2 linked regions of the Homo sapiens genome follow. The protein of the gene in region 1 purifies or fractionates together with the protein of each later gene. This does not show direct contact. Each region holds a gene or a part of one and is shown on either strand. Other genes may lie near its edges.

Region 1 (3,810 bases):
CAAAGAAAAACTAGATCCAGTGGTCCCTGTTAAGATAATGTGAAAGATCTGAACAAATTCAATGAACAGATGTCATTTCCTGCAGTAAGTTTATTTTTATTTTATTTCTTTATTTTTTTTGAGATGGAGTCTCACTCTGTTGCCCAGGCTGGAGTGCAATGGCATGATCTCAGCTCAGTGCAACCTCTGGCTTCCAGGTTCAAGCGATTCTCCTGCCTCAGCCTCCCAAGTAGCTGGGACCATAGGCATGCGCCACCACGCCTGGTTAATTTTTTTGTATTTTTAGTAGAGGTGGGGTTTCACCATGTTGGTCAGGCTGGTCTTGAATTCCTGACCTCAAACGATCCACCCGTCTCAGCCTCCCAAAGTGCCACCGTGCCTGGCCATACATGCTATTTTACATACTGCCTAGAAGAATCTGCGTACTTGGAACTTTGGTTTTAATGTTGCATGGATATTCCAGGAAGAATTTTGTTGTTTAAGAAAGCTTTTTTCCTCTTAGTAGAAATAGCCAAAGATCCAGCTTGTGGAAGTGTAAATAACCTCTTTCCCCACCACTCTGCTCACTTTGTTTCCTGTGATCCCAAGGATCACATTTGTGGAATGTGCTTGTTCTCAAAAGCAGCCATTCTGTTTTGTGTTCCTCACACCTTGTGAGTCAAGAAAAGGGTCATAGCTGGATGCAGTGGTTGCTCATGCCTGTAACTGCAGCTGTGTGGGAGGCTAAGGCAGGAGGATTGCCTGAGTTCAAGGCTGCAGTGAGCCATGCTTGCACCACTGCACCCCAGTCTGGTTGACGGAGCAAGACCTCATCTCTTTAAAAAAGAAAGAAAAAAGTCATTACCATTATTATTACCTAGGCCTCCAATTAATTATTAAAAGATTCCTTGACTAATGGGAAATGATTGAACCAGAAGAGGGTGGTTTTGAGTGATACCTTCCTCCATGGTGAGGTGCTATCTTTCCTCACCACAGCACATCTCCAGTGACTTTAGTTGTGAAAGATCCGTAGAGAGTCTCCTCAGGATAGCATTAGGTACCAGTTGCAGTGCTGGCCTGCCCCTCATGTTGGTTTTTTCCTTTATTTATTTGAGACAGGATCTTGCTCTGTCATCCAGGCTGGAGTGCAGTGGCAAGATCACAGCTCACTCCAACCTCTGCCTCCTGGGCTTAAGCAGTCTTCCTGCCTCAGCCTACCAGGTAGCTGGGACCACAGGCATATGCCATCATGCCTGGCTAATTATTTTTGTATTTTCTGTAGAGACAAGGTCTCGCCATGTTGCCCAGGCTGGTTTCGAACTCCTGGACTCAAGCAGTCCTCCTGCCTCTGCCTCACAAAGTGCTGGGGTTACAGGTGTGAGCCACTGTGCCCAGCAGTTTCTTCCTTTAGATATGAGGGCATCCCCAGTTAAGTCAGTTGACATGTCCGCTTTTGTTAGTTCGATGAGTTTAACCCTCAGCGGATAGCTTTCTGTCAGCTGCCTCCAAGCAGTTCAGTGTGGCAGCCTTGAATGTGCTGGAGGCTGGAGTTGAGCAGCTCTCTGGGCCAGACGCCTCATCTGGGGAGTCCTTGGAGCTGGAAGTGGGAGGTTGTTGGGGGACAGGGTGGATTGTAAACTTTGCAGTTCAGCCCAGGACTCTGGTCCTGGTACTGACTGCTTGTTTCCTTGTTGAAATAAGATAAAGGAAATAAAGACCTAAACACAAAAGGGAGGAAATGAGTTATTACATAACTCTAGGGAACGAATTATGTTTTAAAATGAAACATCTGCACAAGACTCTTGGGTAAGGGGATAGTATTTTATTTTATTTATTTATTTTTGAGACAGAGTTTTGCTCTTGCTGCCCAGGCTGGAGTGCAATGGCGCGATCTCAGCTCACCGAAACCTCCACCTCCTGGATTCAAACGATTCTCCTGCCTCAGCCTCCTGAGTAGCTGGGACTACAGGCATGGGCCACTACGCCCGGCTAATTTTTTGTATTTTTAGTAGAGACAGGGTTTCACCATGTTGGCCAGGCTGGTCTCAAACTCCTGACCTCAAGTGATCCGCCCATCTCAGCCTCCCAAAGTGCTTGGGATTACAGGCGTGAGCCACCTCGCCCAGCAGGGGATAGTATTTTAGTGTCTTGTTTTTCTTTGTGTCTCTTAAACACCTAATTCAGAGTTGACCCTCAGTCATAGTTAGAATTAAGCTGTTTTCTCTCTATAAAAATGACCTAAACACACACCTAAACGAACACCCCCTAACCCAGAAGCTTTTTTTGTTTGTTTTTATAAGACGGAATCTTGCTCTGTCACCCAGGCTGGAGTGCAGTGGTGCGATCTTGGCTCATGGCAACCTCTGCCTCCCATAACCCAGAGGATTTTAAACCCATGGGTTAAAATCTGCTTTATAATAATCCAGGGCCCCACTTCATGGGCCTGAATCTTTTGGACTGGACATCTGTCCAGAATGGGCTGTAGCCCTGCCCTCCCCAGACAGAGCCAGGAGGGTGAAATATTCCTATAGCCCAGACAGACCCTCCCTGGTCATCACACCTATGCCAGGTTCCCGTAGGGGGTATAGAGGAGAGAATTTGGGGTCCAGGGAACGTTTGCCTTCTCACCTGCCAGCAGCGCTCTTGCCAGGACCTCGCGGAATACCTGGTGAAGCCCTGGAAGCAGTTGCAGAGCTGTAGTTTCGGTGCGATGGAGGTGGGGCATTACGAGACTCAGTCAAAACCTTCCTCCTTCGCCCTCCCAAACATTTACTGAGGATAAAAGTGCAGGATGTGTTTTGGGAACGTCAGTAGTCACTGCAGTGGGGAGTAAGGCTGCAGCCATAAGCTGGAGCCAGAGCCGAGGCCCCCCCAGGGGTTGGGCTTTGTAAAGGAGCCCCCAGCAGTTCTAGAAGCGGGAGGGTAACATAATTGAGTCTGTGTTTTAGAGACCTACCCCTGGCAGGAGTGTTGATTTGAAAAATTTCCGATGACTAATGCCTGCCTGAAACCAGTACTGCTGCCTGCTGGGATGAATAGCTGTCTTTTCATGCAGGAAGAGCAGCTGTGATTATAAAAAGCCTGAACACTGAAGCCCCCTCAAGCTGTTCACGAAAGAAGTTGAAAGCACTGGTGGAACCAGGGAACTGAGTGCATCAGATTGAGGGAAATAGCTTACTCCCTCCCACCGTGAGGAGCTCCTACTACATCCTCAACTACCGTTAACTCCCACCCCTAAATGTGCCTTTTAGGCTGTTCAAATAGATAAAAATGCCAGCACAAAGCATCTTGGTGGTCCTTCCTGCCAGGCAGGCATTGTGGTATGCGAGTTCTCAGTGCGTGCACCACCCGCTCGCCTCGCTGCTTGTGCTCACCCTTTGGTCGCTAGAGAGTGCTCCGTATCCCTGGGCATGACCGGAGTCCTAAGATTTCTTCAGCCTGCGGACTGTTTATCCTTCCTTTATATATATGTATAAATTTTTAAGGGTTTAACAACATATTGAAACTGAAATACCAGACAATAATGATAAGGAAGATTGTTTCTTTTTGTTTTGGTGGTGGTGGTTTTTTTTTGTTTTGTTTTGTTTTGATTTTTGAGACAGGGTCTTGTTCTGTCTCCCAGGCTGGAGTCCAGTGGTGTGATCTTGGCTCACTGCAGCCTGGACCTCCTGGGCTTAGTTGATCCTCCTGCCTTGGCCTTCTGAGTAGCTGGGACTACAGATGTGCATCATCACTTGCAGCTAATTTTTTTTTGGGGGGGGGGGTAAGGTTATAGATTAACAGCATCCCAAGGCAGAAGAATTTTTCTTAGTACAGAACAAAATGAAGTCT
Region 2 (3,810 bases), on another chromosome or scaffold:
AGTCTGCTCTTGTTCAGGTGACTCAAGAGGCTGGAGAGTTTATGATCACTTTCCCTTATGGTTACCATGCCGGCTTTAACCATGGTTTTAACTGTGCGGAGTCTACCAATTTTGCTACCCGTCGGTGGATTGAGTACGGCAAGCAAGCTGTGCTGGTAAGTCTGCTTGATTTCTTTCTATAACACCATGACAAAAATGAGCAAATTCTGGTTAGATACGTTGGCTGGTGATTAGAGTATTTCTTTGAGCTGCTGGAATTCAGAAACAAGCAGCTAGCAATGTGTCAGAGTACTAACATTTTGTGTTCATAAGGAATTTTTAAAAATGTGTTCAGAATTGGGAAGTATAAAATGAGGTTCTTAAGTCCATTAGGCATTAAAACCACATCCACACACGTTAATACTCTTGTTTATCCATTCCGAGATTTCTCTGTTGAAATTTTTAGGGGTTTCCTTTACTCTAGGGAAGCAGCAGGGTCGGGCCTTTGACTGATAGTAGTAGACTTGCTTGTGTGTTCCTGGCTTGGACAGGGAACAAGGGCAGGTGGCTCACCGTCCTGGGGGCCTAAGTGCAGAGCCTAACCACCCTCTGTGACCCCGAGTTAGTGCCCAGGTAGATTTGCCCCAGTAGCATGTGCTCTCTGCCTTTTTTTCCCTGCTTCCCTTCATGTTTGAAGGTCCTGCAAGGATAACATGCCCTCAGCCTGTGAACCAAAACAATCTGGTTATAAACCATCTTGCACTTGTTTCCATGTGGAGGGAGGAGCTAGGACGTGGGGGTGAGTTGGAAGCAGCAAGGTATGCTCACCTGGTGCTCTTCTGGTTCCTGCTGACAGTGCTCCTGTAGAAAGGACATGGTGAAGATCTCCATGGATGTGTTTGTGAGAAAGTTCCAGCCAGAAAGGTACAAACTTTGGAAAGCTGGGAAGGACAACACAGTTATTGACCATACTCTGCCCACGCCAGAAGCAGCTGAGTTTCTTAAGGAGAGTGAACTGCCTCCAAGAGCTGGCAACGAGGAGGAGTGCCCAGAGGAGGACATGGAAGGGGTGGAGGATGGAGAGGAAGGAGACCTGAAGACAAGGTAACCCAGCAGCCCTTTTGTCCTGGCTGCGTGAGGGAGGGATGTCTGGGTAGGTCCTGTAATCTGTGGAGAGGCTGTTTCTTGTTTTTTTTGTTTTGTTTTGTTTTTGTTTTTGTTTTTGTTTTTGATGGAGTCTCGCTCTGTCGCCCAGGCTGGAGTGCAGTGGTGCGATCTCGGCTCACTGCAAGCCCCGCCTCCCGGGTTCAGGCCATTCTTCTGCCTCAGCCTCCCGAGTAGCTGGGACTACAGGCACCTACAGCCACGCCTGGCTAATTTTTTGTATTTTTAGTAGAGACAGGGTTTCACTGTGTTAGCCAGGACGGTCTCGATCTCCTGACCTCGTGATCCGCCCACCTCGGCCTCCCAAAGTGCTGGGATTACAGGTGTGAGCCACCGCGCCCGGCCGAGGCTGTTTCTAAGATGCCGTTTGTGCCTTGGCTAAGGGAGTGTTCTTGGTAAAGGCTCCAGAAACCTGAGAGCCAGAGCATTCAGGCACTTTCTGAATGAGAGACCTGTAGTGGGCGTGTAGTCTGCTGGAGCAAGGCGTCAGTTATATGAGGGTCGGGGGCATTTATGTGCGAAGGTCGGGCTCCCTCTGAGCCAGAAAAGTCATGTTTTCTCATCATATCAGAGAGTCTTTTAAAAAGAAGTGTAGTGAGGATGAGACTCAAGGGCATTGGTAATGTCGTGATTTAAGTCTGCAGTGCTATTGGTGGCTGAGCCAGGGGATCTGTGCTCTGAGGAGAATTTATCCTGGGCCATATGGGAAAGAAAGGAGGAACCGTTCCTTGGTACCTGCTATATGCCAGGCACTTTGCCAGCTACTCTGCATACCTTTTCTTAATCCTCACAACAAATCTGTTAGGTGGGTGGTAATACCTGTATTTTCCAGATGATTGAACAAGGTCAGAGAGGTGAAGTCCCTTGTCTCAAGTCACAAATAAGAGGTGTCCCTGAGTTTTGAGCCAGGCCTGACAGGCTCTGGCCATTCACTTTGGGTTGTGTGTGGATGTGTATGAATGTGTTTGAGTAAGTGGATGTATATGTGGGCTCTTAAAAGATTTGCCCTCTCCCTTGCAGCCTGGCCAAGCACCGAATAGGGACAAAGAGGCACCGAGTTTGTCTTGAAATACCACAGGAGGTGAGTCAGAGTGAGCTCTTCCCCAAGGAGGATCTGAGTTCTGAGCAGTATGAGATGACGGAGTGCCCGGCAGCCCTCGCCCCTGTGAGGCCCACCCATAGCTCTGTGCGGCAAGTTGAGGATGGTCTTACCTTCCCAGGTTAGTTGACTATGGTGTATTTTCCACAACCCTAACTCATATATGTGTCCCGTGTTAGATGCCATATTGAGTGCTGGGTCAGAAATAAAAAAGGCAGAGTGACAGGTCCGTGAGCAGATAGCATACTTGGAGTGTGAGAAGTGCTTTGGGTAGGGATGTACAGGGAGGACTGGACACGTAGGGAAAAGCTCCTCCCTCTGCCTGGTCAGGGGTCAGGGAAACACTGGAGGTTTTGGTGAAGGTGACTCTTACAAGGTAAGTAGGACCTTCCCAGGCGGACAGAGAGAGAGGAGGGATGTAGAAAGGGAGTCCCAGATGGGAGGAGCAGGGCACAGGCATGGAGATGGGAATTTTTTTTTTTTTTTTTGAAATGGAGTCTTGCTCTGTCATGCAGGCTGGAGTGCAGGGGCGCAATCTTGGCTCACTGCAACTTCTGCCTCCTGGGTTCAAGCGATTCTCCTGCCTCAGCCTTCCAACTAGCTAGGACTACAGGTGCCTGCCACCATGCCTGGCTAATTTTTTTTTGTATTTTTAGTAGCGATGGGGTTTCACCGTGTTGGCCAGGCTGATCTTGAACTCCTGACCTCAGGTGATCCGCCTGCCTCGGCCTCCCAAAATGCCAAGTGGGATTACAGGCGTGAGCCACTGTTCCCAGCAGAGATGGGAAATATTAATAGCATGGTCCACTTGGGGGAACTGGTGGGGAGTTTCCCTCAATTGAATATTAGGGTGGAAGGCAGCTGTGTGACCAGAAGGTGACGCTGGAGAAATAGGAGATGATGTAGGGCTGTCTGCCATTTTCATTTGCTCACTTGGAAGCTTAAGAAGCCATTTATATTTTAAGAGAGGGAGTGGTGTGATCAGTGCTGTTTAGCAGTCACTTGGAAGGTCATTGAGGCTAGATTTGTTAGAGAAAGGCTTGTATCTGTCTTGGGTCAGGTATGACCCAAAGATGTGGTCTGCCGACAGCCAGGCAGCACTGTGGACTGACACCCTGGGCTGGGCTGGCTTCTCTTCAGCAGATTTTCTTTCCCTTTTTTCTCTTCAAATTTATTTATTTATATTGACAGATAAAATCGTGCATATTTGTCTTGTACAACATAATTTTTTTGTTTGTTTTAGAAACGGGGTCTTACTGTGTTGCCCAAGCCTTTGTGAACACAGCTCACTGCAGCCTCAACTTTCTGGGCTCAAGCAATCCTCTTGCCTCAGCCTCTCAAGTAGGTGGGACTACAGGCATACACCACGCCTGGCTAATTTTTTTTTTTTTTTTTTTTTTTTTGAGACGGAGTCTCACTCTGTCTCCCAGGCTGGAGTGCAAAGGCATGATCTTGGCTCACTGCAACCTCCGCCTCCCGGGTTCAAGTGATTCTCCTACCTCAGCCTCCCAAGTAGCTGGGACTACAGATGCTTGCTACCACGCTGGCTGATTTTTGTATTTTTAGTA

Evidence for each region.
Region 2: the proteins of POLDIP3 (region 1) and KDM4A purify together in Homo sapiens (affinity purification with mass spectrometry; one large-scale study listed by BioGRID and IntAct). This does not show direct contact.

Annotation. Positions count from the first base shown.
Region 1 is NC_000022.11:42,608,187-42,611,996, reverse strand, and holds part of POLDIP3 (polymerase delta-interacting protein 3), read left to right. Parts: exon of another isoform or gene 1-84; intron 85-3,034; exon of another isoform or gene 3,035-3,262; intron 3,263-3,810. UniProt on the Homo sapiens protein: Is involved in regulation of translation. Is preferentially associated with CBC-bound spliced mRNA-protein complexes during the pioneer round of mRNA translation. Contributes to enhanced translational efficiency of spliced over nonspliced mRNAs.
Region 2 is NC_000001.11:43,666,937-43,670,746, forward strand, and holds part of KDM4A (lysine-specific demethylase 4A), read left to right. Parts: exon of another isoform or gene 1-17; coding exon 18-155; exon of another isoform or gene 156-176; intron 177-807; exon of another isoform or gene 808-835; coding exon 836-1,083; intron 1,084-2,163; coding exon 2,164-2,363; intron 2,364-3,810. UniProt on the Homo sapiens protein: Histone demethylase that specifically demethylates 'Lys-9' and 'Lys-36' residues of histone H3, thereby playing a central role in histone code. Does not demethylate histone H3 'Lys-4', H3 'Lys-27' nor H4 'Lys-20'.